Homo sapiens: one gene and its partners. The protein of the gene in region 1 purifies or fractionates together with the protein of each later gene. This does not show direct contact. Each region holds a gene or a part of one and is shown in the gene's direction. Other genes may lie near its edges.

The links.
Region 2: the proteins of HIBCH (region 1) and ACOT9 fractionate together in Homo sapiens (co-fractionation; one large-scale study listed by BioGRID). This does not show direct contact.
Region 3: the proteins of HIBCH (region 1) and ALDH6A1 fractionate together in Homo sapiens (co-fractionation; one large-scale study listed by BioGRID). This does not show direct contact.
Region 4: the proteins of HIBCH (region 1) and FLCN purify together in Homo sapiens (affinity purification with mass spectrometry; one large-scale study listed by BioGRID and IntAct). This does not show direct contact.
Region 5: the proteins of HIBCH (region 1) and CLIC4 fractionate together in Homo sapiens (co-fractionation; one large-scale study listed by BioGRID). This does not show direct contact.
Region 6: the proteins of HIBCH (region 1) and CLIC5 fractionate together in Homo sapiens (co-fractionation; one large-scale study listed by BioGRID). This does not show direct contact.
Region 7: the proteins of HIBCH (region 1) and PRCP fractionate together in Homo sapiens (co-fractionation; one large-scale study listed by BioGRID). This does not show direct contact.

The regions. Positions count from the first base shown.
Region 1 is NC_000002.12:190,313,134-190,317,530, reverse strand, and holds part of HIBCH (3-hydroxyisobutyryl-CoA hydrolase, mitochondrial isoform 1 precursor), read left to right. Parts: intron 1-4,397. UniProt on the Homo sapiens protein: Hydrolyzes 3-hydroxyisobutyryl-CoA (HIBYL-CoA), a saline catabolite. Has high activity toward isobutyryl-CoA. Could be an isobutyryl-CoA dehydrogenase that functions in valine catabolism. Also hydrolyzes 3-hydroxypropanoyl-CoA.
Region 2 is NC_000023.11:23,708,153-23,712,549, reverse strand, and holds part of ACOT9 (acyl-coenzyme A thioesterase 9, mitochondrial isoform a precursor), read left to right. Parts: intron 1-4,397. UniProt on the Homo sapiens protein: Mitochondrial acyl-CoA thioesterase. Catalyzes the hydrolysis of acyl-CoAs into free fatty acids and coenzyme A (CoA), regulating their respective intracellular levels. Regulates both mitochondrial lipid and amino acid metabolism.
Region 3 is NC_000014.9:74,063,517-74,067,913, reverse strand, and holds part of ALDH6A1 (methylmalonate-semialdehyde/malonate-semialdehyde dehydrogenase [acylating], mitochondrial isoform 1 precursor), read left to right. Parts: intron 1-344; coding exon 345-534; intron 535-1,027; coding exon 1,028-1,209; intron 1,210-1,821; exon of another isoform or gene 1,822-2,553; coding exon 2,554-2,733; exon of another isoform or gene 2,734-2,993; coding exon 2,994-3,092; exon of another isoform or gene 3,093-3,125; coding exon of another isoform or gene 3,126-3,226; intron 3,227-4,397. UniProt on the Homo sapiens protein: Malonate and methylmalonate semialdehyde dehydrogenase involved in the catabolism of valine, thymine, and compounds catabolized by way of beta-alanine, including uracil and cytidine.
Region 4 is NC_000017.11:17,229,772-17,234,168, reverse strand, and holds part of FLCN (folliculin), read left to right. Parts: intron 1-1,267; 5' UTR 1,268-1,381; intron 1,382-2,286; 5' UTR 2,287-2,375; intron 2,376-4,338; exon of another isoform or gene 4,339-4,397. UniProt on the Homo sapiens protein: Multi-functional protein, involved in both the cellular response to amino acid availability and in the regulation of glycolysis.
Region 5 is NC_000001.11:24,796,825-24,801,221, forward strand, and holds part of CLIC4 (chloride intracellular channel protein 4), read left to right. Parts: intron 1-917; coding exon 918-1,027; intron 1,028-4,397. UniProt on the Homo sapiens protein: In the soluble state, catalyzes glutaredoxin-like thiol disulfide exchange reactions with reduced glutathione as electron donor. Can insert into membranes and form voltage-dependent multi-ion conductive channels.
Region 6 is NC_000006.12:45,897,666-45,901,467, reverse strand, and holds the end of CLIC5 (chloride intracellular channel protein 5), read left to right. Parts: 3' UTR 1-3,012; downstream 3,013-3,802. UniProt on the Homo sapiens protein: In the soluble state, catalyzes glutaredoxin-like thiol disulfide exchange reactions with reduced glutathione as electron donor. Can insert into membranes and form non-selective ion channels almost equally permeable to Na(+), K(+) and Cl(-).
Region 7 is NC_000011.10:82,893,411-82,897,807, reverse strand, and holds part of PRCP (lysosomal Pro-X carboxypeptidase isoform 1 preproprotein), read left to right. Parts: intron 1-4,397. UniProt on the Homo sapiens protein: Cleaves C-terminal amino acids linked to proline in peptides such as angiotensin II, III and des-Arg9-bradykinin. This cleavage occurs at acidic pH, but enzymatic activity is retained with some substrates at neutral pH.

The DNA.
Region 1 (4,397 bases):
AATACAGTTTTACCAGTCTGGATTTCACAGATTTGGCCCCAGTATATTCATGGATGAACAATTACCTACTGTTCTGTTCTACTTGCTGGGAAGCACAGTTCTAGGCATTTCTATTATCCTGTAGCCACTCTGGACTACTTGGTTTTCCTACTGTTCCTTATGTAGGGCCCTTGGAGTCTGAAAGGAGAGCAGATAGGAAACACATAATTAGACAAAAGTAATTTTTGATTACCAATTCTGGTAAGTGTCTTAAGGGACAAGTACAGTTATGAGAGCCAGATTTAGATAGGGAGAGGGAGTCAGGAAGCCTCATCAGAGAGGTTGCTCTTCGCTGGGTGTGGTGGTTCATGCCTGTAATCCTAGCACTTTGAGAGGCCAACATGGGAGTTCAAGACAATCCTGGGCAACATAGCAAGACCCCGTTTCTACAAAAAATAAGAAATAAAAAAACTAGCTGGGTATGGTGGCATACGCCTATCCTTCCAGCTTGGGAGGCTGAGGTGGGAGGATCACTTGAGCCACAGAGTTCAAGTTTACAGTGAACTATGATTGTGCCACTGCCCTCTAGCCTGGGCAACATGGAAAAACCTAGTCTCTAAAAATAGAAATAACAGGAAGAGGGTACTTTTAGGTTGTTAATAGGCCTCATTGCCTTTTCCATCTCCTCCATCCTCTGCTGAACTGTATTGTTTTGGTTCTTGCTCTTTGCCTGTCTTCTCTTTTACTTCTAGTTAGTTGTTTCTTAGTTGATCAAAGGCTCAATCTTTGTTGCTCTTTTAGGTTGTTTTCTGTGTTAGGAATCATGAGCCTGAATGCAGAGGCTGAGAAGGAAGCATTGAAAGATGCTGGCTAGATGGCAGCATGGGGGACTGGTGAACTGGAGAGAGTGCTCTAGAGAGGAGGCAGCTTCTCAGCCCCAGCCATTGTTGCCCTTATAGAATATAGACCCAGGGTTTCCATTATTACTGATTTTTCTGGAAAACCTGGAAAAAGTGCAGTTTTAGGTGAAATGTCTTGATTTTTAAATGTTAGTAGTTTTTTTCTGTTTTTCTTCTTTTTAATCTCTACCATTCCATCCAGATAATGTTAGTAGTTTTAAAACTGCTCGGCTGGGCATGGTGACTCAAGTCTGTAATGCCAGCACTTTGGGTGGCTGAGGCTGGAGGATCACAGCCCATGAATTTGAGACCAGCCTGGGCAACATAGACTGTCTCTCTACAAAAAATTTAAAAATCAGCCAGGTGTGGTGGTGTGCGCCTGTAGTCTTAGCTGTTCAGGAGGCTTGAGTCCAGGAGATTGAGGCTGCATTTGAGCCCATGTATCATACCACTGCACTCCAGCCTGGGTGACAGAGTGAGACCCTGTCTCTAAAAATAAATAAATAAATAGAATACAAAAATAAAATGCTGCTGACCAATACCACAGTTACAGTTGGCATCTTTCTGGCAATTAGTTTTCAACTGCAGCCTTCTCATTTATTCCTTACAGAAAGCTGAGAGATTCCAGTGTCTCAGTGATTGTACATGCATGTGGCATAAGATATACCTTTAGTTCTAACTTTTCTTTCAACCTCTAGTCTCTTTCTTCTGTTGACTATTTCTGCTTATGTCAGTACAAATTCAAATTCAAAAAATTGAATTTGTATTTCGTCCTGCAAACCAGCTAGCTTCTTTCCCTGTCTTTTCTATATTCTCCTGGTTGTCCTGGCTTGAAATCTTAAAGTCATTTTTGACATTCCTTTCCATTGAGTTTTTACTTTATAAAAACTCTTAATAATATCACTCCCTTCTGTTTCCACATCTGCTGTTCTTCATCACCCCATGCCTAAATTATTGGCCTCCTGGACTTGATTTTCTGCTCTGTTCACACCTTGCCTACTTCTGGGATAATAATTTTCACTAAGCACTACTTTGTGATGTCTTCTTCCTGCTTAAGCAGTTTCATGTAGTTGTTTAATTTCGTGAGGCCATGTTTGTTTTATTGGATAATTGCAAAAAGTTCCTGAGTGATAAAGTTCTCATCTAAGACAGTTGTTTATTTAAACTTCACGCATCATAACCACCTGGAGGGTTTGTTAAACACAGATTTCTGGGCCCCACAGTTTCTTGTTCAGTAGGTCTGGGGTGGGGCAGAGAATTTCAGTTTCTAGTCAGTTTCCAGGGGATGTTGATGGTACTTGTCCAAGAACCATACTTTGAGAATAACTGTTCTAAAAAGCCAAGTTGACATCAGTTGAAGGAAATAAGCCTGATAAAGTTAATTAAGAAATTAGAAGTAGCAGGCCGGGCACAGTGGCTCATGCCTGTAATTTCAGCACTTTGGGAGGCTGAGGCGGGCGGATCAAGAAAGAAGTCAGGAGATCATGACCATGCTGGCTAACATGGTGAAACCCCGTTTCTACTAAAAATACAAAAAATTAGCCGGGCATGGTGGCAGGCACCTGTAGTCCCAGCTACTCAGGAGACTGAGGCAGGAGAATGGCGTGAACCCGGAAGGCAGAGCCTGCAGTGAGCCGAGATTGCACCACTGCACTCCAGCCTGGGCGACAGAGAGAGACTCAGGCTCAAAAAAAAAAAGGAGCGGAGAGGTGCATGCCCTCTTCCTCTCCACCAGATGGCAGTTTTGGAACCAATAGAAAAGAAAGATCATAAATTCAGAATTACCTGGGGACACTGAATTCTCAATTACATTTTGAGGTATAAAAGCTAATATCAAATTTTAAGTGACAGCTGAATTTGAATTAGAACGAATGGGCTGGGTGCGGTGGCTCACACCTGTCATCCCAGCACTTTGGGAGGCCCAGGTGGGCGGATCACCTGAGGTTGGGAGTTCAAGACTAGCCTGGCCAACATGGAGAAACCTCGTCTCTACTAAAAATACAAAAATAAGCCGGGTGTGGTGACGCATGCCTGCAATCCCAGCTACTCGGGAGGCTGAGGCAGGAGAATTGCTGGAACCTGGGAGGCAGAGGTTGCAGTGAGCTGAGATCGTGCCACTGCGCTGCAGCCTGGGTGACACAGCAAGACTCTGTCTCAAAACCAACCAACCAACCAAATGGAAGCAATGTGATTATATAGTATTTGACAAGGAATTTGGTTGTGTGTGTATATATATATACACATATATACGTATATATATACATATATATACACATATATACGTATATATATACGTATATATACACATATATATGTATATATACATATATACATATATATACACATATATATGTATATATACATATATATATATTTTTTTTGTAGTAACTGGTCCACAGATTTTTGTGACCTATAAATATTGTGTACAGTGGCTTTGTTTGATAGGTTTACATTAACTTTCTTTGAGTTAAATAAAATTCTGTCTTATATATAAAACTGGGACTTGGAGTTAGTCCTGAGTTCTCTTTGTTTACTTGTTAAAACACTGCAGTTAGTACTTACACTGTTACATAATAGTTGCAAATCTGGCAACACCCTCTTGAACCTTGAACCTACATTTGGGTACTGGCCTCATTAAGGAATCCAAAGTCATTCTGGATTTTTATGCTTAAAATCTCCAGAAAGATAAAATTGAGTCAAGTTGAAAACATTTTAGACGTGGTGTTTTAGGGTAGTGTAGTTCACACTTTAAAAGTAATTATGAAAACCTTATTTAGAAAGTATCCCTAAATAAGATATGATCTGTCACTTCAGTTTCATAATTATAAAGTGTTAGTGTTGATTTTTAATGACAGCTTCGTTCTTTGAAATCATTTAGGGGAGCTTCAAACAAAGTATCTGTGCCTGTGCCCCACCTCCAGAGTTTGATTTAATTGGTCTTGGGTGTGACCTGGGCTTTGGAATTTTTAGCAGTCTCCAGGTGATTCCTTTTTTTTTTTTTTTTTTTTTGTGAGACAGAGTCTCTTGTCACCCAGGCTGGAGTGCAGTGGCACAATCTCGGCTCACTGCAACCTCTGTGTTAGAAATACCAAAATTGTTAGATAAGTGGTGTTGTGAAGAAAAGTCAGCACGGAGGCAAAAGATTTATCAGCAAGGCCATTTTTACTTTCTGCAGAAAGGGTCCCCAATTGCAGATGGAACAATGGCGAGAGCACACTTGACAAAGGAAAAGCAGACATATTTATCCCTTACGCATTTGGGTTGTCCTTAATGCTGTGTCCTGCATCCATTGGCTGGAGTGGGACCTCACACTCTTAAACTGATACCCAATATGCTAATAGCCTAAATAGGTAAGTGTAGGGAAGAACAAAGAAGTTGCTTATGAAAGGTTTAAGGAAGCAATAACATTTTTAAATAAGGGGAATAGGCTGTGAGCTCGAACATGCCCGTGAGCATGTCCAATAGTTACGTAGGATAGGGCTTAACAAAGAGTTACTAGCACAAAGCAAGGAGGCATGA
Region 2 (4,397 bases), on another chromosome or scaffold:
GGTATGCGAATTATACCTTAATAAAGCTGTTATCAAAAAAAAACAGACTTACAGACATAAAAATCAAATGTAATTTTTTGTTAGGCATGACAATAGTAATGTAGTTACTTAAGAGAATATTATCCTTTTTTTTTTTTTTTTTTTAAGATGGAGTTTTGCTCTTGTTGCCCAGGCTGGAGTGCAATGGTGGGATCTCGGTTCACTGCAACCTCCGCCTCCTGGGTTTGAGCGATTCTCCTGCCTCAGCCTCCTGAGTAACTGGGATTACAGGCATGTGCCACCATGCCTGGCTAATTTTTGTATTTTTAGTAGAGATGGGGGGGTGTTTCACTATGTTGCCCAGGCTGGTCTCGAACTCCTGACCTCAAGTGATCCACCCACCTCAGCCTCCCAAAGTGTTGAGATTACAGGCGTGAGCCACCATGCCCAGCTGAGTTGTGCAATCTCTTAAATCTGTTTTAATCCAGAACAGTTGTGTCTTCCCCTATTGTTTCTTATTCACTCGTTGAGAGGCTGGATCATTTGTTCTAAATAGTGTCCCACTTTCTGGATTTGTTCTATTGCTTTCTCATGGTGGTTTGTTTGTTTGTTTTTTGATCTTGTTTCTCTATCCCTAGTAATTTCTCTAAACTGAAGTTAGATCTAAAGCCTTGTATTAGATTTAGGTTGAGCATATTTGGTGAGAGTACTACATAGATGATGTTGTATATCTCGTATTTCATATTGCATCGTATCAGGAGGTACAGGTTGTCCCACTCACAGTGATGCTAAGATTAGTGTGTGGGTTCAAGCAGTTACAGCCTAATCTCTCCTTTGTGAAGTTCAGTTTTTCCTCTTCTGATCAGCAACAATCTACAGGGGTGTACTTTGTCATCCTGCAAATAGCTGAGTTTCCCATCAGTCTTTTTCCAGTGCTTTCAATGTCCACTGCTGATCATTGCTTTAATTAGTATCATTAGGCAGTTTAGAGTAATTCTCAAATTTTGTCATTCCTTCTATGTTTGTTAGCTGGAATTCTGTAAAGAAGAGCGTTCCCTTAACAACTAGGGCGATTGGGTTTGAAATGGAGTTAGGATCAATGCTTCATTCTTGTCTTTTATTTACATGTTTTCAGAATAAGGAGTTGGTTCACTAGCTAGTGATGACATGCTTTTCCCAGTTTTTTAGCTTTTTAGAAAAGTATCATGTTTTTAAATTTCTTTTTTTTTTTCTGTGTGTGTGTGTTTTTGAGATGGAGTCTCGCTCAGTCACCCACACTGGACTGCAGTGGCGCAATCTCGGCTCACTGCAGCCTCTGTCTCCTGGGTTGAAGAGATTCTCCTGCCTCTGCCTCCCAAGTAGCTGGGACTACAGGCATGCCCCATTATGCTTGGCTAATTTGTTTTGTATTTATAGTAGAGACGGGGTTTCACCATGTTGGCCAGGCTGGCCTCGATCTCCTGACCTCAAGTGATCTGCCCACCTAGGGATTCCAAAGTGCTGAGATAACAGGCGTGAGTCATTTCGCCCAGCCCGTTTTTTTTTTGTTTTTTTATTTTTTTTGAGATGAAGTTTTGCTCTTCTCTCCAGGTTGGAGTGCATTGTCATGTGTCATGAGCATGGCTCACTGCAGCCTGGGCCTCCTGTGCTCAAGCAATCCTTCCGCCTCAGCCTCCTGAGTAGCTGGGACCACAGGCACATACCACCATGCCGAGCTAATTTTTTTTCTTTCTTTCTTTTTGAGATGGAGTTTTACTCTTGTTGCCCCGGCTGGGGTGCAGTGGCGCAATCTCGGCTCACTGCAACCTCCACCTCCTGGTTCAAGTGATTCTCTGGCCTCAGCCTCCTGAGTAGCTGCCCAGCTAATTTTTAAATTTTTTGTAGAGATGGGGTTTTGCCATGTTGGCCAAACTGATCTCAAAATCCTGGGCTCAAGTGATCCTCTCACCTCGGCCTCCCAAAGTGCTAGGATTACAGGTGTGAGCCACTGTCCTGCCAGAAAAGCATCATTATGAATTCATGGTTGTAATATATTACATGTATTTCAATAAATTGCAGCCATTGTTTCTCTTGATGCTCCAAGTGTGCCTTCTTTGGGCGGTGGGAGTTCCTCTAAGCTGGCTCCTTTCCACCTGTCTGTTTGATAGCTTCCTGCTGTCTGACACAAGATGTCTTGGGCTCATCTTACGTATTTCCTGCCCCAGGCCTGGAGTCAGCCATTTCTCCAAGTAGTCCTGGGGTTCCTTTTAGTGGGAACTGGTATTTAGACATCAAAATCTGGGCACTAGAACTGTACATTGTTACTAGTTTGTTATTGTTTCCAGGCCTTTTTAGTGGACAGAGCTAGGATATATTTTAAACAAACAAAAAACCTCATGAGAGCTGGGTGTGGTGGCTCACGCCTGTAATCCCAGCACTTTGGGAGGCCGAGGTGGGCAGATCACTTGAGCCCAGGAGTTTGAGACCAGCCTGGCCAACATGGCGAATCCCCATCTCTACTAAAAGTACAAAAAAATTAGCCAGGTATGGTAGCATGTGTCTGTAGTCCCAGACGATGTGGGAGGCTGAGGTGGGAGGATTGCTTTAACCCGGGAAGCAGAGGTTGCAGTGAGCCAAGGTCGCACCACTGCACGCCAGCCTGGGCGACAGGGCAAGACCCTACCTCAAAAAAAGAGCCTCATGAGTTTATATGGTCATTTTCAAGTCATTTAACCATATAGACTTCAACTTACTTTACGTCATCTTTTTTCTCTGAAATTGAATTCTTGGTTTCTAACAACAGTTACACCCAAACTGAGAAAAACTAATTGTGGGGGTAGAGCTGGGGTGGGAGGGATTGCTCTTTGCACAGGACAGAGTCCAGTGGCCTGTGGGAAATCTCATTTGTATTAGAAACTTGATTTAGGAGTCTGCAGTGAAAAATCTTTGCTGCTGCGTGGAAAGCTGACTTGGAAAGCCAAATTAAGATAGAAAAATATGTTGGTCCCTTAGTGATCTGAGGGAAGAATAACACCCATCTACTCTGGCCCTTCCTGCCAGCCCCAGCTGACCTGCTGTGGCCAGTGACTGGCCTGGGGCTTGTATTCAAGCACTGAGGCCACTGCTGCAAGTTTCACTCCCAGCTGATGCATGTCACTTTCCCAAGCTGTTGTTTCAATTCTTTTGTTTTTTGTTTTCAAGACAGAGGTTGGCTCTTGTCACCCAGGCTGGAGTGCAGTGGTGCTATCTCGGCTCACTGCAACCTCTACCTCCTGGGTTCAAGTGATTCTCCTGCCTCAGCCTCCTGAGTAGCTGGGATTACAGGCACCTACCACCACACCCGGCTGACTTTTGTATTTTTAGTAGAGACGGGGTTTCACCATGTTGACCAGGCTGGTCTCGAACTCCTGACCTTAGGTGATCCACCTGCCTTGGCCTCCCGAAGTGCTGGGATTACGAGCGTGAACCACTGCCCCCGGCCTGTTTTAATTCTTTTGTTTCCATTGTTGTTTCATCAAATCTTTTGATTCTACCACAGTGAAATATTATCCCTTTTCCCTTATTTTTTATTTCAAAAAATTTGATGCTTACAGAAAAGTAGATAGAATAATGCAACAAACGTATGCCTTTCACGTAAATTGTATTACATTTGCGTAATTCTCTTACCCTCTCTCTACAAATACACACATTTACATATTTTTTCCCATGAATCATTGGAAAGTAAGTTTGAGACTGCTTCACCCATTCAGGAGTTCAGCATGTATTTCCTAAGAACCAGGTATTTCTCCATAACCTCAATGCCTTTATTATATCTGAGAAATTCAACAGTGATACAGTTATTTAATATGTGATCCGTATTCAGATTTCACCAGTTGTCCCTAAAATGTCCTTTATAGCTATCTTCCTGATTCAGGACCCAATCCATCAAGGATTGTATATTGCATTTGGTTATCCTGTTTCTTTAGAATAGTCTCTCTGCCATTTGCTGTCTTTCAAAAATTGATATTTTTAAAGAGTTCAAGCCAGTTTTCTTTTTCTTTTTTTTTTTTTTTTCTTTTTTTGAGACAGAGTTTCGCTCTTGTTGCCCAGGCTGGAGTGCACTGGCACGATCTCGGCTCACCGCAACCTCCACCTCCTGGGTTCAAGCAATTCTCCTGCCTCAGCCTCCCGAGTAGCTGGGATTACAGGCATGTGCCACCACGCCCGGCTAATTTTGTATTTTTAGTAGAAACGAGGTTTCTCCTTGTTGGTCAGGCTGGTCTCAAACTCCCAACTTCAGGTGATCCCCACCCGGCTTGGCCTCTCAAAGTGCTGGGATTACAGGCGTGAGCCACCACGCCCGGCCTAAAGCCAGTTTTCTTGTAGAGTGTTCTACAACCTATATTTGACTGTTTCCTCATGATTAGAATCAGGTTAAACATTTAGCAGATGCCAGTATC
Region 3 (4,397 bases), on another chromosome or scaffold:
TCACTCTGTCACCCAGTCTGGAGTACAATGGTGTGATCTTGGCTCACTGCAACCTCCGCCTCCCAGGATCAAGTGGTCCCCCTACCTCAGCTTCCCAAGTAGCTGGGACCACAGACTGGTGCCATTATGCCTGGCTAATTTTTTGTATTTTTTGTAGAGATGGTGTTTCACTATGTTGCCTAGGCTGGTCTTGAACTCCTGACCTCAAGTTATCCTTCTCACCTCAGCCTTCCAAAGTGCTGGGATTACAGGCATTAGCCACCACACCTGGTCCACTGCTTAATTTCTTAGCTTAGTTGTATTTGGCCAAGGAAGACTCATGTGCTTTCTGCATTTTTTTTTAGGGAGCCAAGAACCATGGGGTAGTCATGCCAGATGCCAATAAGGAAAATACCCTGAACCAGCTGGTTGGGGCAGCATTTGGAGCTGCTGGTCAGCGCTGCATGGCTCTTTCAACAGCAGTCCTTGTGGGAGAAGCCAAGAAGTGGCTGCCAGAGCTGGTGGAGCATGCCAAAAACCTGAGAGTCAATGCAGGTAATCAATCACCTGACTTGCCCCCTTAGATTTTGCATCTGTGGCATTAAGCTCTTGGGTTCTGTCACTGGCCTTGGCCAGTGGGAACAATCATGTCTATTCTTGCCATTTCCTCTCTTTATACTGTACTTGTCATTTGGAGTCATCTTGTTAGCAGTCTTTTTTTTTAAAGCACAGGCTGTCTGTTACCCAAGCTGGAGTGCAGTGGCACCATCCTAGCTCATGGCAGCCTCAAACTGTTGGGCTCAAGTGATCCTCCTGCCTCAGCCTCCTGAGCAGCTTGGACCACAGGTGCGGGCCACCACCTGGCTAATTTTTTTATTTTTTGTAAATATGAAGTCTCACTTTGTTGCCCAGGCTGGTCTGGAACTCCTGGGCTCAAGCAGTCCTCCTGCCTTGGCCTCCTAAAGCTTTGGGATTACAGGCATGAGCCCTGGCAGCAGTCATAATTTATGTTAATGAGGACCTTAAATTCTTCTGTGTTGTTTTACAGGAGATCAGCCTGGAGCTGATCTTGGCCCTCTGATCACTCCCCAGGCCAAAGAGCGAGTCTGTAATCTGATTGATAGTGGAACAAAGGAGGGAGCTTCCATCCTTCTTGATGGACGAAAAATTAAAGTGAAAGGCTATGAAAATGGCAACTTTGTTGGACCAACCATCATCTCGAATGTCAAGGTGAACAACTTTCACTTCACAAATATGAGAGCTGAAGGCACCTTAAAGGCTATAGAATCTCATCCCTCTAATTTATTAATGAAAATACTTAATGACTAAGACCTTATCTCTTGCCAGGATTGATCAATTATTTTATCTGGAGTCTGAATGAGCCTCTCCTTCTAACTCCCAACCAAACTCTTTCCACTATACCAGCAGTCTGCAGACTTTCCATAAAGGGATAGATATTTCCAGCTTTGCAGGGATATAGTGTCTGTTGCAACTAAACTCTGACATTGTAGTGTGAGATCAGCTATAAACATTGTGTGGCTGTGTTCCAAAAAAAATGTTATTTATGGACACTGATATTTGAATTTCATATCATTTTATATATGATTAATTTTTTTTCAACCATTTAAAAATGCAAAAACCATTTTTAACTTGGGGCTGTACAAAAACAGGCAGGAAGCCACATTTGGCCCACAGGCTATAGTTTGCCAAACGCTATCTTATCTTATACTGGTTTGTTAATGTTTTCTCTCCCCTCTCCCTCTTGCTGCCTAGCTTATGGCTACTGCAGTGTCTCAATCAATATATCAACCACCCAATATTTATTGAAAGTGACAAAAATAATTGACTTGTCAATTTTTATTTATCAAAACTTTGAAAGTCTCTCAGCTAACATGACTTAAAAATTGAGGTTATGAGGCATTTTTTGAAATTCATATATCCTTACTATAATAGTGAATCATCAAGTGTTGAATGTAAGTGCAGTAGAAATTATGAAATCTCTTGCCACAGAACCATACAGAAAAATCCGTTTATCAGCAACAAACATTAATTGCATGGTGAAGGATGTTTTGAGTGTCTGCGACCTGATATCAAAATATAAACATACAGACATATTTGGGAGGCAAAGGAGTGAATAAGAATGGATTATTTATGTTACAGAAAACAGCATGGGGTTTCTGTAAAGAGAAAAATTATCCTGGTATATTTACTATAGATTGGATTTATAAAAAATAAATTTTCATGTAACTTTTTGATAACAATTGGATGAAACTAGTCGTTCAGGTATTAAAAAGGCAGCTGATGATGGGTCATGAACTAAAGATACAGTCCCTTAAAGGAAGTGTGGTTATTGTTGATAGGAATTCCAAGTTGTTTATATGATTGGTAACTTGGAAGACGGAATACACTTGAGAGAGGACTTTTTTTTTAAATAGGTGATTTGAAATGAAAAGAGATTAGTAATATGAAAGTTGTCCACGTAAATGATGTGTAGTAAGTGAAAGTACCAAATAAGCATAAAATACTCAGAATCCAAAAAGCTGACTTCTTTTCTGGATGCATCACTCCTGGCAGCCAAATATGACCTGTTACAAAGAGGAGATTTTTGGTCCAGTTCTTGTGGTTCTGGAGACAGAAACATTGGATGAAGCCATCCAGATTGTAAATAACAACCCATATGGAAATGGAACTGCCATCTTCACCACCAATGGAGCCACTGCTCGGAAATATGCCCACTTGGTGGATGTTGGACAGGTTCGTGAACAGAATTTTTAAGAGATTCTTATATCCATTTACTATTTCCTAAGAGGAAACAGTAAATAATGGTGAGTCATTGGTTTAAGATTGCCCCCATGACCTCCCACATTGCCCCATTTCTTCCTCAGGAATGAAAGTTCATGGGGTAGAGGATAGGGTAGAAGGTGGGTATTTAAAACTGGTCTCTGATGCCTTTGTGTTTCTAAATGGAGAGTTCCTTTGTCCTTAGGATATGACACGGATTTGTTCTGTTTTAGGTGGGAGTGAATGTCCCCATTCCAGTGCCTTTGCCAATGTTCTCATTCACCGGCTCTCGATCCTCCTTCAGGGGAGACACCAATTTCTATGGCAAACAGGTAACTTTTGAGTTAAATTTTTTGTCTTTTCCTTTAAGAAATTTTCTTAAAGATATTCAGGAGCAAGGATTCTGCAAGGAAGGGACTGCCAGCAGCATCTGTGAGGTCATAATCAGTGCTTCTCAGAAGGTTCCCTAAAAAAGATTTAAAAGTTAACAAAATTTTGCCAAAGCTGCTTCTTCCTGAATAATTCAAAGCAACAAAGTTTTGAGGAAAGAGCATGGGGAAGTCTAAGCCTTTGTATATGCCATTTCCTGAGTGTGTGACCCTCTTCCCCATCTCTCCCCTTTCATCTGACTAACTCCTAATCATCTGTCATGTCTCACTTTAAAAAATGAGCTCCTCCAGAAAATCTCCTCCAACTACCACCACCCCTCCCTCAGTGCTGGGTAGTGTGACCCCAGTGTGTTCCCATTGCACGTATTTTTTCTGTAATAGTTATTCATTTACAAAAAATGTTGTTGAGCACGTTCTTTGTAGCAGACATTATTATTACTATTATTATTATTATTTTTTTTTTTTTTGAGACACAGTCTCGCTCTGTTGCCCAGGCTGGAGTGCTGTGGCATGGTCTTAGCTCACTGCAACCTCCGCCTCCTGGGTTCAAGCACTTCTCCTGCCTCAGCCTCCCGAATAGCTGGGACTACAGGTGCCTGCCACCATGCCTGGATAATTTTTTGTTTTTTAGTAGAGACAGGGTTTCACCATGTTGGCCAGGCTGGTCTTGAACTCCTGACCTTGTGATCCACCCACCTCAGCCTCCCAAAGCACTGGGATTACAGGTGTGAGCCACTCTGCCCGGTCTGTAGCAGACATTATTTTAGGCACTATGAATACAGCACTGAACAAGAAAAGTAAAGCAGATCTGGAACCAAATTGCCTGTGTTCAAATCCCAGCTAAGCCAGTTATTAGCTGTCTGACTTTGGGGGATACCATTAATTTTTTTTTTTTTTTTGAGACAGAGTCTCACTCTGTCGCACAGGCTGGGGTGCGGTGGCACAATCTTGGCTCACTGCAACCTCCGCCTCCCAGGTTCAAGCAATTCTCCTGCCTCAGCCTCCCAAGTAGCTGGGATTACAGATGCCCACCACCACACTTGGCTAATTTTTGTATTTTTAGTGGAGATAGGGTTTCACCATTTTGGCCAGGCTGGTCTCGAATTCCTGACCTCAGGTGATCCGCCTGCCTCAGCCTCCTAAAGTGCTGGGATTACAGGCATGAGCCACCACAGCCAACCAGGATACCTTCTTTATGCCTTAAATTTATTCACGTATAAAATGAATAACAATAGTACCTATGTATTT
Region 4 (4,397 bases), on another chromosome or scaffold:
GGAAGTGGCTTGTCAGCGTTGCCTCTGGTTTCCCTCTCCTGCTTGAGAAGGAAACTGCCAGGCCTATGGCCTGAAAAGTAAGTTGGTGTGATGTAGATGCTGCCAGAGCACCCCCTTATAACCAAGAGTAAGAAAGATGGGGACTTGGCTGGATGCAGTGGCTCATGCCTGTAATCCTAGCACTTAGGGAGGCTGAGGTAGGTGGATCACCTGAGGTCGGGAGTTCGAGACCAGCCTGGCCAACATGGTGAAACTCTGTCTCTACTAAAATACAAAAATTAGCCAGGTGTGGTGGCAGACACCTGTAATCCCAGCTACTCAGGAGGCTGAGGCAGGAGAATCACTTAAACCTGGGAGGCAGAGGTTGCAGTGAGCTGAGATCACGCCATTGCACTCCAGCCTGGGTGACAAGAGTGAAACTTGGTCTCAAAAAAAAAAAAAAAAAAAAAAAAGGAAAGATGGGAACTTGCAGCCTTGACCTCCCAGGCTGAAGTGACCTCCCAACTTAGTCCCCCAAGTAACTTGGACTAGAGGCATGCCCGGCTAATTTTTTTTTTTTTTTTTTTTTTTGAGATGGAGTCTTGCTGTGTCGCCCAGGCTGGAGTGCAGTGCCGTGATCTTGGCTCACTGCAAGCTCTGCGTCTCAGGTTCACGCCATTCTCCTGCCTCAGCCTCCCGAGTAGCTGGGACTATAGGCGCCTGTCACCATGCCTGGCTGATTTTTTTTGTATTTTTAGTAGAGATGGGGTTTCACCATGTTAGCCAGGATGGTCTCGATCTCCTGACCTCCTGATCTGCCCACCTCGGCCTCCCAAAGTGCCGGGGTTACAGGCGTGAGCCACCGCGCCCGGCCTGGCTAATTTTTTTTAAAAATTTTTTGTAGAGACAGGGTCTCACTGTGTTACCCAGGCTGGTCTCAAACTCATGGGCTGAAGCAATCCTCCTGCCTTGGCCTCCCGAAGTGTTGGGATTACAAGCATGAGCCACTGAGCTGGCCTCAAGACCCTATCTCTAAAAAAATAAATACAGAGATCCTTGATCAAATACTGGTTTAGAGTGCCTCAGAGGTGCAAGAGTTCAGCTAAAATGTCAGCTCCTGCTGAGAAGGTCAGAGGCCTGCTAAGCCATTCAGAACCCTGGGGAGTGTCTACATCCTCATCAGACACGTTCTTATTTGAGACTGGCTGTAAGCTGCTCCCATTATTTTTCATGCTACGAAGGCCTCTAATCTTAGAAATAGCTCTAATTTTTTTTTTCTCTTACCTAGAAAACGCCAGGTCTTCAAGGGTGTCTGCCACCACCATGCCTGACCCATTTGGCAGCAGCCTCGTGTGTGGTGGTCTGGTGTGGACGGTGGAAGCGTGATTCTGCTGAGTGTCAGGTTAGTGTGGGTGCTCTGCAGGTGGGCTGAGACTTGGCCCAGGCTTGCTGTCCTGTGCATGTCTTGCTAGAAGGAACCTTATTTCTCTTCCCCTGATGCCTCTCAGAGAAAGGCGTGGCCTTCCTTTTCGCAGTTTAATGCCTTTACCTTTCCTTTGGGTCCTGCTACCCCTTACTCCATCAGTGGTCGCCCCATCTCCTGTTGAGCAGTAGATTTTTAAGCCACTCATCATAGTGAACCCTGTGGGCCCTTTATTGAAACTGTCTGTTTGGTTCCTGTGCCACTAGACTCTGGCTCCGGCCTTCCCCACAGCTGTGGCTCCTGAACCTCTGCCGCCCCTAGATTCCGCCCCTTTCTTGGCAACAGCTGTCATCTTTCCAAGGGCGACTTCTCAGTCCTCTCATTTATCTAACACGTGAATGTGGCGCTTCCTGTGTGTCAGGAAGGCACTTTGGAGGCGCAGTTCTGCGATGAGGAGCGCTACGACTCAAAGCAGGGCAGGGGAGGGTGTCGGGGTGGAGGGGAGCTCTTCTGGTGGGCTGGCAAGGGGTACTCTGAGCAGGGGAGCAAGTGGAGGCCGAGTGGTGAGGAGTGAGCCAGGTGACGGTGTGTGGAGCATTCCTGACCTTTGTCCCCAGCCCTGCCCTCTCCTGTCCTGCAGCCTGCATCTTTGCTGAGTTCTCAGGGCCTTCCAGCTAGAAGTTCTGCCATCTGTTAAATGCGTATGTTTCCTCTCCCGCTGCCTGTCTGCCTCCCTCTCGGAGTGCACCTACAGAGCACTAGCCCTCCATTCCCTGCCAGCCACACCCAGGGTCTCCCTCTCTGACTCCCACACCTGCCTCACTGCCAGCCCAGCTAAGGTTCTCTTCAAATGTCTGTTTTCTGTCTGCCTCTGCCATTCCCAGTGTGACCACTCGTGCTCAGCCGTATCTCAGCAGGAGGACAGGTGCCGGAGCAGCTCGTGCAGCTAAGCAGCCAACTGCAGAAACGTCAGGTGGGTGGTGCATTCGCAGGCATGCTGAAGAAGCAGTTCCAGGCATGGGCCGCCGGCAGAGAGGCTGGCTGCAGCACCCCCCACCACCATGCACATCGTCCTTTGCTTCTTCCTAGAGTTAGCGGCTTTGGCAGGCCATGCCTTGTTTGTGTTCACAGCCTGCCTGTCAGGAGCGAAGACAGAACGTCTGACTTTTGGATCCGTAACAGGGGTGGGGGCTCCCCAGAAGAGAAGAGGCTTTGGGTCCTGGCCAGTGTCCACTACTCAGTCAAACATTCAGAAACTTACATGATTCTTCATCGTCCCAAGCAAGTCTGACTTGGGCCCTTTATTGAAACTCTGTTTCCTCTCCCGCTGCCTGTCTGCCTCCCTCTCGGAGTGCACCTACTGAGCACCAGCCCTCCATTCCCTGCCAGCCACACCCAGAAAGCAATGGGGCTTTCTGGGAAGGCAGAAATATTCTGTGACCTGGGCTATTCAGAGGGGTGGCGTGAGTCGTGTGTGCCTAGCAAACACTCAGGACATGGCCGGTGAGACAGAAGGGCTGAGCTTTTGTCCTAGCTAATATATTAATTAATTAATTCATTATTTATTTTGAGACGGAGTCTCTCTGTCGCCCAGGCTGGACTGCAGTTGCGCAGTCTTGGCTCACTGCAACCTTCGCCTCCTAGGTTCAAGCAATTCTCCCGCCTCAGCCTCTTGAGTAGCTGGGACTACAGGTGTGCGCCACCATGCCTGGCTAATTTTTTTTGTACTTGTAGTAGAAATGGGGTTTTGCCATGTTGGCCAGGCTGGTCTTGAACTCCTGACCTCAAGTGATCTGCCCACCTCGGCCTCCCAAAGTGCTGGGATTACAGGCATGAACAACCGCACTCAGCCTATTTATTTAATTTTTTCGAGACGAAGTCTCACTCACTCTGTCACCCAGGCTGGAATGTAGTAGTACGATCTCAGCTCACTGCAACCTCCACCTCCCAGGTTCGAGCGATTCTCCTGCCTAGGCCTCCCAAGTAGTTGGGACTACAAGCGTGCGCCACCACTCCAGGCTACTTTTTTTTTTTTTTTTTTGAGATGGAGTCTCGCCCTGTCATAAAGGCTGGAGTGCAGTGACCTAGTCTTGGCTCACTGCAACCTCCGCCTCCCAGGTTCAAGTGATTCTCCTCCCTCAGCCTCCCAAGTAGCTGGGTTTATAGGTGACCGCCAACACGCCCAGCTAAGGTTTTTGTTTTATTTTGTTTTGTTTTTGTTGTTTTTGGTTTTTTTTGAGACTGAGTCTCACTTTGTTGCCCAGGCTCGAGTGCCGTGGTGCGATCTCGGCTCACTGCAACCTTGCCTCCCAGGTTCAAGTGATTCTCGTGCCTCAGCCTCCTGAGTAGCTGGGACTACCAGCGCACACCACCACACCTGGCTAATCTTTGTATTCTTAGTAGAGGCAGGGTTTCACTGCGTCGGCCAGGCTGGTCTCAAACTCCTGACCTCAAGTGATCCACCCGCCTCAGCCTCCCAAAGTGTTGGGATTACAGGCTCATGGGATTACAGGCATGAGCCACTGTGCCGGCCTCTCCTAGCTAATTTAAATTTTAAATTTAAGTTGTCACACATAGCTGTGGCCACCGTATGGACAATGTGGGTCTGGCTGCATGTGTCAGGCTGTGTCACATGTCAGGCTGTTGGCTGTGGCTGTCCCCACTGTGCACCTTTGCTTTTGCGGTCTCGTTTCCAGAACTTCTCTGCCAGTGAGAACCCCATGACACACCCCCATTTTAAAGCCTTCTCTGGCTTTCCTGCATTCGTTAGGAAGGCATACTGCCTCATGCTGCCGCGGCCATCCCTCTGCAATGAGTGCTTGGTGTCCCTCAGACTTTGTGCCTGCAGCTGCCCCTGGCCTTCACATGGTTCCGCCGGCATCGCAGCTGTACTGTGGCCAAGCTTGGGGCTTTCCTTGACTCCATGTCCCCACCAGGTGTCCCATTGCTGGCTCTGCCACGGAAACTCTCCAAAGGGCTCTCTCTACCCACTCCT
Region 5 (4,397 bases), on another chromosome or scaffold:
CTCCCTAGCCACATATTGCTAGTGGCTACCATATTGGACATTGGCAATATGGATCATCGCCATCATGCATTAAATTCTCTTGGGCAGTGCTATACTAGACTGGTCATTTTTATTTTTTATTTTATTTATTTATTTATTTTTTTTTTTTGAGACAGAGTCTCGCTCTGTCGCCCAGGCTGGAGTGCATGGCACGATCTCAGCACACTGCAACCTCTGTGTCCCGGGTTCAAGTGATTCTCCTGCCTCAGCCTTTTGAGTAGCTGGGACTACAGGCACCCACCACCACACCTGGCTAATTTTTTTATTTTTAGTAGAGATGGGGTTTCACCATATTGGCCAGGCTGGTCTCAAACTCCTGACCGTGTGATCCACCTGCCTCAGCCTCCCAAAGTGCTGGGATTACAGGTGTGTGCCACCACGCCTGGCCCTAGACTGATCATTTTTAAGAAAAGAAAGAGGCTAGCGCTAGCTGGGTGCAGTGGCTCATGCCTGTAATCCCAGCACTTTAGGAGGCTGAGGCAGGTGGATCACTTGAGCCCAGGAGTTCAAGACCAACCTGGATAACATGGTGAAACCCTGTCTCTACTAAAACTATTAAAAATTAGCCGGGATGGTGGTACGTGCCTGTAGCTCCAGCTGCTTGGGAGGCTAAGATGGGAGGTGAAGGTTGCAGTGAGCTGAGATCGCACCACTGCACTCCAGCCTGGGTGACAGAAGGAGACCCTGTCTCAAAAAAAGAAAAAAAAAAAAAAAGGCTAATGAAAGAACAAAATAATAAAGACCCAAATTTCTACTCTTCCTTCCACAATGTAACTTTTCCTGGCTTCTTGTACTCTTGATTAAAATTCAGAAAAAGTTATGTCATGTTGAGTATCATCACTTTGACCTTGTTTTTAATGTTTAATTCTGTTTTCCAGGCTGGCAGTGATGGTGAAAGCATAGGAAACTGCCCCTTTTCCCAGAGGCTCTTCATGATTCTTTGGCTCAAAGGAGTTGTATTTAGTGTGACGACTGTTGACCTGAAAAGGTAAGACATGGTCGCAGTTTGCAATCAACTTAAGCTGAACTATCTTTTCAGTTTGATCCTATTTTCACCTTGATGGCACATATTCTCTAAAGGAAATATATTGTATTAAAGTTCTGCTGGTTTATGGACAAACAACTTGTATATAACTATTTTGGACAAGTCACGCTGTCAGTATACTGCGTGGCTACTCAGTCTTTTTTAGGAACTTTTGTATGTTTACCTTAAATTTCATGAGTAGCACTAGGAGCTAAGTGTTAGTGTGGATGCAGTGAAATCCTTGACTTCTTTTTTCCAGTGTAAACATGGAGTCATGAAGAGCTTTCTAAGCAGACATCATCTTGGCCCCAAATGTGTTAAGCATGTGATCTTTATAATCTGGATCTTCAAAGACAAGGATTTTTAGGAGGTTGAATACCGTTGTTGTCAATTTCATTTAATTTATTTTTCAGAGAATAACAGTAATTTTCTATAGCATTTTAGCTATAATGCAAGTATTTTAATCATATTTGTTTAAATGTATTGTAAAATAAGAGCAATTATCTGTGGCCCGGTGTCTGTTCTTGCTAAGTGAAGAGTTGTTTGTAGGTTTCTCTCCTGGATGACTTTATGGCTTATTTTCCATAGTGGAGAGGGCTGAGAAGAGCCGTGATGAGTAGAAAGCTCTGTTTTATTCAGGAATGTCTATTCACCTTTAGCAAACAGGTCTGAGGTGAAGAACATTCATACATCCCCTTCCCCAAAAGATTTAAATCAAGGGTTAAGAATAGTTGTATTGCTCTTCCTCTCCCTCTCCCCACGGTGTCCCTCTCTTTCCACGGTCTCCCTCTCTTTCCACGGTCTCCCTCTCATGCGGAGCCGAAGCTGGACTGTACTGCCGCCATCTCGGCTCACTGCAACCTCCCTGCCTGATTCTCCTGCCTCAGCCTGCCGAGTGCCTGCGATTGCAGGCACGCGCCGCCACGCCTGACTGGTTTTGGTGGAGACGGGGTTTCGCTGTGTTGGCCGGGCAGGTCTCCAGCCCCTAACCGCGAGTGATCCGCCAGCCTCGGCCTCCCGAGGTGCCGGGATTGCAGACGGAGTCTGGTTCACTCAGTGCTCAATGGTGCCCAGGCTGGAGTGCAGTGGCGTGATCTCGGCTCGCTGCAACCTCCACCTCCCAGCCGTCTGCCTTGGCCTCCCAAAGTGCCGAGATTGCAGCCTCTGCCCGGCCGCCACCCCATCTGGGAAGTGAGGAGTGTCTCTGCCTGGCCGCGCATCGTCTGGGATGTGAGGAGCCCCTCTGCCTGGCTGCCTAGTCTGGAAAGTGAGGAGCGTCTCCGCCTGGCCGCCATCCCATCTAGGAAGTGAGGAGCGGCGCCTCTTCCCGGCTGCCATCACATCTAGGAAGTGAGGAGCGTCTCTGCCCGGCCGCCCATCGTCTGAGATGTGGGGAGCGCCTCTGCCCCGCCTCCCCATCTGGGATGTGAGGAGCGCCTCTGCCCGGCCGCAACCCCGTCTGGGAGGTGAGGAGCGTCTCTGTCCGGCCGCCCCGTCTGAGAAGTGAGGAGACCCTCTGCCTGGCAACCACCCCGTCTGAGAAGTGAGGAAGCCCCTCCGCCCGGCAGCTGCCCCGTCTGAGAAGTGAGGAGCCTCTCCACCCGGCAGCCACCCCATCTGGGAAGTGAGGAGCGTCTCCGCCCGGCAGCCCCCCCATCTGGGAAGTGAGGAGCGTCTCCGCCCGGCCAGCCGCCCCGTCGGGGAGGGAGGTGGGGGGGTCAGCCCCCCGCCCGGCCAGCCGCCCCGTCGGGGAGGGAGGTGGGGGGGGTCAGCCCCCCCGCCCGGCCAGCCGCCCCGTCCGGGAGGGAGGTGGGGGGGTCAGCCCCCCGCCCGGCCAGCCGCCCCGTCCGGGAGGGAGGTGGGGGGGTCAGCCCCCTGCCCGGCCAGCTGCCCCGTCTGGGAGGTGAGGGGCGCCTCTGCCCGGCCGCCCCTACTGGGAAGTGAGGAGCCCCTCTGCCCGGCCAGCCGCCCCGTCCGGGAGGGAGGTGGGGGGGGTCAGCCCCCCGCCCGGCCAGCCACCCCGTCCGGGGGGGGGGGTCAGCCCCCCCACCTGGCCAGCCGCCCCGTCTGGGAGGTGAGGGGCGCCTCTGCCCGGCCGCCCCTACTGGGAAGTGAGGAGCCCCTCTGCCCGGCCAGCCGCCCCGTCCGGGAGGGAGGTGGGGGGGTCAGCCCCCTGCCCGGCCAGCTGCCCCGTCTGGGAGGTGAGGGGCGCCTCTGCCCGGCCGCCCCTACTGGGAAGTGAGGAGCCCCTCTGCCCGGCCAGCCGCCCCGTCCGGGAGGGAGGTGGGGGGGGTCAGCCCCCCGCCCGGCCAGCCACCCCGTCCGGGGGGGGGGGTCAGCCCCCCCACCTGGCCAGCCGCCCCGTCTGGGAGGTGAGGGGCGCCTCTGCCCGGCCGCCCCTACTGGGAAGTGAGGAGCCCCTCTGCCCGGCCAGCCGCCCCGTCCGGGAGGGAGGTGGGGGGGTCAGCCCCCCACCCGGCCAGCCGCCCCGTCCGGGAGGGAGGTGGGGGGGTCAGCCCCCAGCCTGGCCAGCTGCCCCGTCTGGGAGGGAGGTGGAGGGGTCAGCCCCCTGCCCGGCCAGCCGCCCCGTCCGGGAGGTGAGGGGCGCCTCTGCCCGGCCGCCCCTACTGGGAAGTGAGGAGCCCCTCTGCCTGGCCACCACCCCGTCTGGGAGGTGTGCCCAACAGTTCATTGAGAATGGGCCAGGATGACAATGGCGGCTTTGTGGAATAGAAAGGCGGGAAAGGTGGGGAGAAGATTGAGAAATCGGATGGTTGCCGTGTCTGTGTAGAAAGAAGTAGACATGGGAGACTTTTCATTTTGTTCTGCACTAAGAAAAATTCTTCTGCCTTGGGATCTTGTTGGTCTGTGACCTTACCCCCAACCCTGTGCTCTCTGAAACGTGTGCTGTGTCCACTCAGGGTTAAATGGATTAAGGGTGGTGCAAGATGTGCTTTGCTAAACAGATGCTTGAAGGCAGCATGCTCGTTAAGAGTCATCACCACTCCCTAATCTCAAGTAATCAGGGACAAACACTGCGGAAGGCCGCAGGGTCCTCTGCCTAGGAAAACCAGAGACCTTTGTTCACTTGTTTATCTGCTGACCTTCCCTCCACTATTGTCCCATGACCCTGCCAAATCCCCCTCTGTGAGAAACACCCAAGAATTATCAATAAAAAAATAAATTAAAAAAAAAAAAAAGAATAGTTGTATTAATGGGAAAAACTAGGGTTTGGCAGTGGATTCCTCTTGATGCAAGTGTCACAACATGATTTGCTATTATACTGATTTTTAAAACTATTAGTCTGTTCTCACATTGCTATAAAGAACTACCT
Region 6 (3,802 bases), on another chromosome or scaffold:
AATATCAACAAATTCTAACCCAAGCAATCCCTGGACCTACCTGCCTCCAGGGATCTCTGAAGAAAAAAAGTAACCCATTGATCAAATCAGAGGAGAGGAAGCAGGAGGTCTCCTAGAGCCCATTGAGGAAGAGGAACTTTCTCAGTAGGACACTTTATAAGCCTGAGAAAGCTTTGAAAAGGCGGAATGAGTTGATTCATTTCCACCTCAAAAGGAACCTTTCCAGGTCCCCCTGGAAATTGTGCCCTGGAGATGTTTAACAAGGAGAACTGGTGAGGAAAGAGTCCTTTTTTACTGTAGGGAAAAGCCCCAAACTGGCCTCCTGGGGGATGAGGGCTGAAATGATCCCGAAGGCCTTTTAATTAGTGTGAAATCCTGCTGTACTCAGAAATCCTTCCCCGAATTTACAGCACAGGCAGGATGACCTAAGAGGCAGTTTACTTCCCTGAGACCCACAGTTGGGCTGTTCTGGAAACACATCTGTGAATCATAGCCAATTGCCACAGAGAAAACAGAACCAAGCCTCCGGTGAGGCCACTCCACCCCAGAGAAGTCTGCAGAATTCCAAGGACTCGGATTGGATGTTCAGAATTCAGCAACTGGAAAGTCCTTAAAAACAAACAGGCCAAACCAAATCAATATTGCTGTTTCTAGATGTCCCTTCTGTGGTTGAGCTAGTTTTACAGAGATAAATATATTAAGACAAGGAGGTGGGGGTGTTATATGATCAATGATAGCCATTTGAAAGAGAGGGAGGAGTACAGAAGGAAGGCACTTCTGGGTACTTAATTCAGAAATTTCTTTATATTTCAGCACTGGATTATCATATAATGCAAGTGACTATGGACTAAGAGTTAGTTATGGTGTCTTATGACTAGATTTATTATGGTATATTAAAGTAACAATAATATTAATATTACCTTCCTTTTTTTTTTTGTTTCAAAAGAGATCTTTCTCCAGATGCTTCAGCCTGTCTGGCCTTCTTATCATATGTGCAGCACATCATGTCTCAGCAACAGTGTGGTGAGGTCCTTAGGTGTCCCAAGAACAACTCAGGGAGCACGGGAGGGTCTGCAGTTGGGACCCCACAACTATACAGCTATAGGGTAGGAGGCTTCCTTTTCATTGGTCCTGAATGAATACAAATCGCTCAGAAAGCATTTTGGTGGCACAGAAAGGGGATGTATTTGTGTTGAGATCTTATTTTATTTTGTATTTATTTATCTTCTTTGACTTGCACAGCACTATTGGGGGTGGGGGAAGCAGGGTAGTGGGAGACGAAGGCAGAAGCAAGAGTCAAACTCAGAATGACTGAGTTGAATTCACTGTCTAGTCAGCAATGCCTGCTTCTGAGTTTGGCCCAGAGAGAAGGTATTGAGTAAGATTTTAATAACTGTAAAAAGTAAGCTGGATAAGTAAAATCATGATGGATCCAAAGCACAGTTTCTTCATCTCCTGATAAAGAAAGTCAAATGCTTGATAAATTCAGAGTCACAGATGTGAGCATAGCTATATTCTTTTAAACGAGAGGTAGAGTGACCTAGCACTAAGCAAATGAGCTGAAATGTCGGAAACAGAGTCCATCAGCTTATTTGGCCACACGATCCCAAACTAGTTTTATCTTGGGAAATGGCCCTGTCCTCAGCATTCCCTTCTTGTGCTGGTGGGGCCAGTGAAGTCTTGATCTTATCAGAAAAAGGCCACACCAAGTGCGAGTTTTCCCAGGCTGACTTTCCAGGCCCTTATCAAATGAAACAACAGAAGCTCTTCACAGTTCTGTGCCCCATGGCCACTCCACAGACAGACAATACCAAGCATCTTAGAACTGTCATAAGATAGGTCATGCCTGAAATAGATCTTGACCATATGAGAGTCCCAGAAATCAGCAAGGCCTGGACAAATAGAACTAAGAGAGAGGCAGAGGCAGGAAGCTGCGGGTCTATCTTGTAAAGAGTTTAGCATCACTGTGAGAGTGTGTGTCTAAAATTAAATTAAACTAGAAGCAGCAGGTGAGTATTTGGTAAGTACTTCTGTGACTCGCCTCAATTCCCACTGGCCAGGGGCCATCTCAACTGCACGGTGAATCAAGATGCTGGTGTCATCCTCCTTGGAAAAAGGAAATGTTAACTCATGGTTAAAACTAAGTACAATGATTCCCAAGGGATCACTTTCTTATTTTTTTAAATGACATTAAGGAGAATCTTAAGAAAGCATCAGAGAAAGACATGTGCATGTGAAGCACCCTGATTCTGATGTTAGGAAAACTTAAGCGAACAGGACCTGCTGCACACAGCCCCATTGTCTTCTATCCATTTCTCTTTATCATTCAAATCAAGCAACATGTGCCCTCCTCATCAACACACATTCTTCCCCTTTGTCAGTATGCATCTCCCAGCTTAGTGTCAGGATACTTTCGATTCATAATTATGTATGATCCAAAGTGTGCATAATTTCATTTAACGTTAAAGAAATAGATCCAATTCCTTTCTTGCAACCAAAAATAAATAAAATACGTTGCCTCAATATAAGGTTTGGGCTATTCTGTGTTTCTATAGAAGCAATCTGTTTTTGGTAAAATGTACTTTTAAGGATCCAGTCATCTGAAGTATTTTATGTAGAGTTAGAGATTTCACAATATTGACTATACATATATTTAAAATATAAATTATCCAGCTGATGTTTGAATTTGTCTTACTTTCCTGGCCACCTCGTTGTCCTATTTTATAAGCTGGGGAGTTAACTAGCTTAACAAAAGATGCTTAGCTTTTGTAAAAGAACAAGTGTTTCATTTTACAAAGACACTCCAAATGATAGTTACTTGATTTTCTCGAGACCTTTAACTATGGTGATGAATAACAGGACTTGCTTTCAAGCCTTAATAAATGTAAAATGCCTTTTAATGAAGATACAGCTGAGTGTTTTCCTCATGAATCTGAACCAATTACCAATTTGTGTTCCAGTCTTGATTGGTATTGACTGATTCAAATAAAGTTGGTTTATTTTCAAATATTACAAAAGTGGTCATCTAACTTCTTATTTGAGGTGGGGATTTCCTGTGCTGTTTTAGATGACAAGTATGAAGTACCTTTTTTTTTTCCACATAAAGGTTAATTTATTTTCCCATTATAAAGGAAAATGTTCATTCTTTTTAAAAATCAAAGCATGCCTGGATAATTTTTGTATTTTAGTAGAGATGGGGGTGTCACCATGTTGGCCAGGCTGGCCTCGAACTCCTGACCTCAAGTGATTCGACTGTAATCCCAGCTACTTTGGAGGCTGAGGCAGGAGAATTGCTTGAACCTGGGAGGTGGAGGCTGCAGTGAGCTGAGATTGCACCACTGCACTCCAGCCTGAGTGACACCGACAGAGCGAGACTCCCTCTCAAACAAAGCAAAACAAAACAAAAAAATCAAAAGCAAATGGAAAAGAGGAAGAAGAAAACGAAAAGCACAAAGTTTGTGAACCAGCCATCCTAAAACCAATTTTTTTTTTTTTGCAAGACTAAATAAACATTCTTTCATAATACCTGGGCTAGGTAAAAAATTATACTGATGCTCTTTCAGTGTCTCATATTTCCCATCTGCATTGTCATCCATGGAGGTAGATCAACAGTGACAGTCCAGGTATGATTTAAAGAATTCCTTAAAATATCATTCTTCTTGTGCCCAGAGCTCTCTGTTGGCTCTCAGTGGCTTGCGTTCCTAGGCTGAAATCCCTACTCTCAACACCACATCACTGACTCTGGGTTCAGGTTCCCAGAGTCCTTAGTAAGCTTTACCTGAAGCCAATGTGACGTCTGATG
Region 7 (4,397 bases), on another chromosome or scaffold:
GGTCTTATCCCTCCCCTGCTTAGAAATTCTTCATAACTCTGATTGCAGGATAAAGGCCAAACACCTTGGCATGGGAATCCATTGTTCCTTACTATGTAACCCTAGCTGGTCGTTCCAACTTTATATTCTGCCATAATTCCCCATCCCAGCTCCCACTTTTAGCAACCTAACAGACTCAAGTGACTTTTACTGTGTCAGAAATTCTGTCTGGAATACCATCCCTCTTCCCCACTATTTAAACTCATAATTCTATTCCAGCAGAAATGTCTCACCTCTTCTGCGAATCTTTGACTTCTTTAAGGAAATTTAGTTGGTCTTTTTTCATCCTGCACATTTACTATATTGTATGTGTCCCTCCAGCTCGTTAGTACTCTACAATACCTAGAAGAGCCTATAAAAAAGTATAAAGCACAAAATAAATAGTTGTTGAAAGAGTGAATGCATGATTATTCAAAAAGAACCTAAACAAAGCAAAGGCTACCATCATTTAATTGTCACAAATCATTTTTTATTTTTCTTTTTATCTTTTACTTTAATTCTTTACTAATTATTTTTTCCTCCTTTTTCAAGGTCTTCAAATATTGAGTTAGGTAGGACTATTTGATTTCTTTTACCTGAAATAACTGAATTAGGAGACCAGAGAGAGGATAGTACATCACTTGGGCACATCGAGGCTCTGGGTACATGTGTAGTATGTGTGGTATCAGTGTCATAAAGGGCTCTCTGGAATATGTGGCTTGTGGTTACAATGTTGCATGCTTATTACCTTGTACCTCCCACCTGAGCCCCTCAGGCTAGAATGTGAGTCCCAAATCACACATTTTAGTGTGTGATGTAGTGAAGAGGGAGAATGGGTCCTGTCAGGCCATCATTTTTCTCAGTGGTAAAATTGGGAGCAATATCTATTGTATTAGGGTGTGTGTCTGTGTGTTTCTCTCTCTATGAGAGAGATTTTTATTAAGGAATTGGCTCATGCAATTGTGGAGGCTTAGTAAGTCCAAAATCTTCAGGGTAGGTTGGAGGCTGGAAACCCAGGGAAGAGTTGCAGTTTGGATGCCCAGGCATTCTGCTGGCAGAATTTCTTCTTGCTTAGGGGAAGTCAGTCTTTTTTTTTTTTTTTTTTTTTTTTGAGTTGGAGTCTCGCTCTGTTGCCCAGGCTGGGGTGCAGTGGTGAGATCTCGGCTCACTGCAACATCTGCCTCCTGGGTTCAAGTGATTCCCCTGCCTTAGCCTCCCGAGTAGCTAGGATTACAGGTGCCCGCCACCACGCCTGGCTAATTTTTGCAGTTTTTAAAATACAGACAGGGTTTTACCATGTTGGCCAGGCTGGTCTTGAATTCCTGACCTCAAGTGATCCACCCACCTTGGCCTCCCAAAGTGAGGGGAAGTCAAACTTTGTTCTATTAAGGCCTTAAACTGATTAGATAAGGCCCACCCAAATTATGGAGGGTAAAGTCCACTGATTTAAAGTCCGCTGATATAAATGTTAATCTCATCCAAAAAATACCTTCACAAAAACATCTAGAATGATATTTGACTAAATAGCCGGGCACCATGGCCTATAAAGTTGGCATATAAAATTAATCATCACATCCACCAAGGTTGTTGTCAGAGTTCAGTGTCGTAACAAATGAAAGCCACATGGATGGTGCATAAAACATGGTAGGAGTTTAAACAACTTGATGGAACAAGTGCTAGTTCCTTCACAACTCTGTCCTGAAAATACACTCTCATCCAAATGCATGACAATAGTGGTAATGCCTCTTCTGAAAACTTAGTACCCAGCTATTCCTATTTAACTGCTGATCATTGTTTCTGTTACAAGTCTGTGTGTTGGCCCAGCATTGAGCTCATGGTCACTGACTTCTGCAGCTCCTTCCTCATTTGCTGTGAGGGGATCACATCAGTGGGCTAAGCTATTTAAATTTATGTACATCCTTTATAGTTCCACTTTCAATTGCTGTTCTAGGTTCCCCTTTCCCACCTTTGTCACAGTGGCCCTGATGTCTAGTAAAATGTTATGTCTAGCTATGTTAGGCACCTTGTAGGGCATGTTGATAAAGATCTTTCTCCTCCTCCTTTAAATTTTTCTTCCCCTTTCTCCTCTTCTTATCTGTTCATCTATTGATGGACTTTCCCTTAGGCCTGGAGTGTCCTGTCAGAAATATTGTGTGAATTCAGAACTGATTTATGTGTTTGGTGACACAGAATCATTTTTAGAAGGGGCCTTAGAGATCATGTAGCCTTCCCCTTAGATATGATGGATTGACCTTGATCTAAATTATAGAGGGTCAGAAACTTGATAGAGCTTGAACAGGAGGGTGGTTAAAAGCACAGCTTTTAGTGCTGGGTGTGGTGGCTCACACCTGTAATCCTAGCATTTTGAGAGGCTAGGAGGATCACTTGAGGGCAGGAGCTAGAGACCAGGTTGGGCAACATAGTGAGACCCTGTCTCTACAAAAAACAAAAAACAACTACAACAAAACCTAAAGCATACCATTTAGAGGCAAACAGGTTTGAGAGCAAGTTCTGTTTCTGCCACTACCTGAGTAAGTTACTCAGAGGCAGCCCCTATTTTCATAATCAGCAAAATGGAGATAATTATATTACCTATACCATAAGTTTGTTGTAAAAAGAGGTGGTATGTGTAAAGTGCATATTTAGCACAGTGCATAACAGTTAGTAAACAATAAATGATAAACATTATTTTTATCTTGCAGTTTCCTAATGTACATGGCTTTAATTAACCCCTTCACTTTTTTAAAATCAATAGGATTAAAATAATCAATACTTTAATAGATTTGTGGCCTAGGAATTAACCTTTTTTCTTGCTTAAAATCATTCTTTTCACACAAGATTCTGTACATAAAAAGAAGCATATGAAACTATTTCTATTTTTCTTTCTATGCTATTTTAAGTGTTGATAAAGTGTTGGGGGGAAATATGGTAATGAATTTACCCTTTTAGGTTTTTGGAAGTACCTTCTTCTCTTGATAACAATAGTAAATCTAACACTGTCTTTCTGATAGCTGAGTTTTAAATTTCTTACTAGCTAATGCTAAAATCTAATTTCAATAAAAATTAACTTTAGGTTTTTCACTGACTTGTTTATATTCCTCTGTCAGCATACTGCAGGAACTTTGTGCTTTAGAGAATTTAGACTTTTAAAACATTTTCAAAGTTTGGGTTCTAGGATCAGCCCTGCCACTAAATCACATCATACTTTTGGGCAAGTTGCCTAACCCTCTAGATCTCATTGTACTAATTTGTAAGATAAATGGATTGGATCTGCTGATCTCTGATTTACCTATAATTTTGTTCACTGAGTGCCTCCTGTTTATAGGGCACTGCGTTAGGAACAGTGGGAATGTGGGTACAAGTTTTGTTTTTTGCCATAACATTAATTGCCTTTGATGAATTGGACCTAAACAACTTTACTATCTTGACTTTGAATAAGACACAGACCCATAACATATAAAGTGTTTTTAAATTAAAAAGTAATCACCTCTTCAATTGGTACAATATTTATAATATTGCATAGTTGATTTATATTATAATATAATAAAACATTGTGTTTATGATTTTAAAGTTTGCTTGGTTGTGGGTCTATTGCAGAAGAAAGGAGAATCATAGGTAAGGAGAATACCTTGATGGTAGATCTTATTTGTCTTCATTTCTAGTGCCTTGGATGGTACTTCTTTTTATTTTTTTATATGGTTCTGACAGGATATGGTACTTCTTAATAAAGATATTATGAATTGAAAAAATTGACCATAAATTAAAATGAATAAGGAGTAAGAGATGAAAGTAAAATTACATATGTAGTGTAAATGTGTCTAATGCATTATTAATGATAGTAATTTACTACCATTTATTGAAAGCTTCAAATACCGTAAATATTATCCTAAGTACTTAATAGACATTCACTTAATTAATCCCTATTACTGTTCTATGAGGTAGATGCTATTATTCCATTTTGTAGGCAAGAGAACTATCCTTTTTGTTTGTTTATTTTTAGACAGGATCTTGCTCTGTCACTCAGGCTGGAGTGAAGCCATGTGATCATAGCTCACTAGAGCCTTGAACCTATGGGCTCAAGTGATCCTCCCACCTCAGCATCCCGGGTAGCTGGGACTACAGGTGTACACCACAATGCCTGGCTAATTTTTTAATCTTTTTGTAGAGATGGGATCTCGTTATGTTGCCCAGGCTGGTCTTGAACTCTTGTCCTCAAGCAATTCTCTTACCTTGGTCTCCCAAAGTGCTAGGATTACAGGCAGGAGCCATCAAACTCGGCGAGCAAGAGAACTATCATATAGAGAGGTTAAATTATTATACTGAGCTATACTACTTATCTGTACCATTTTGTTTTTCTGAAATTAAACTCTGATTAATTT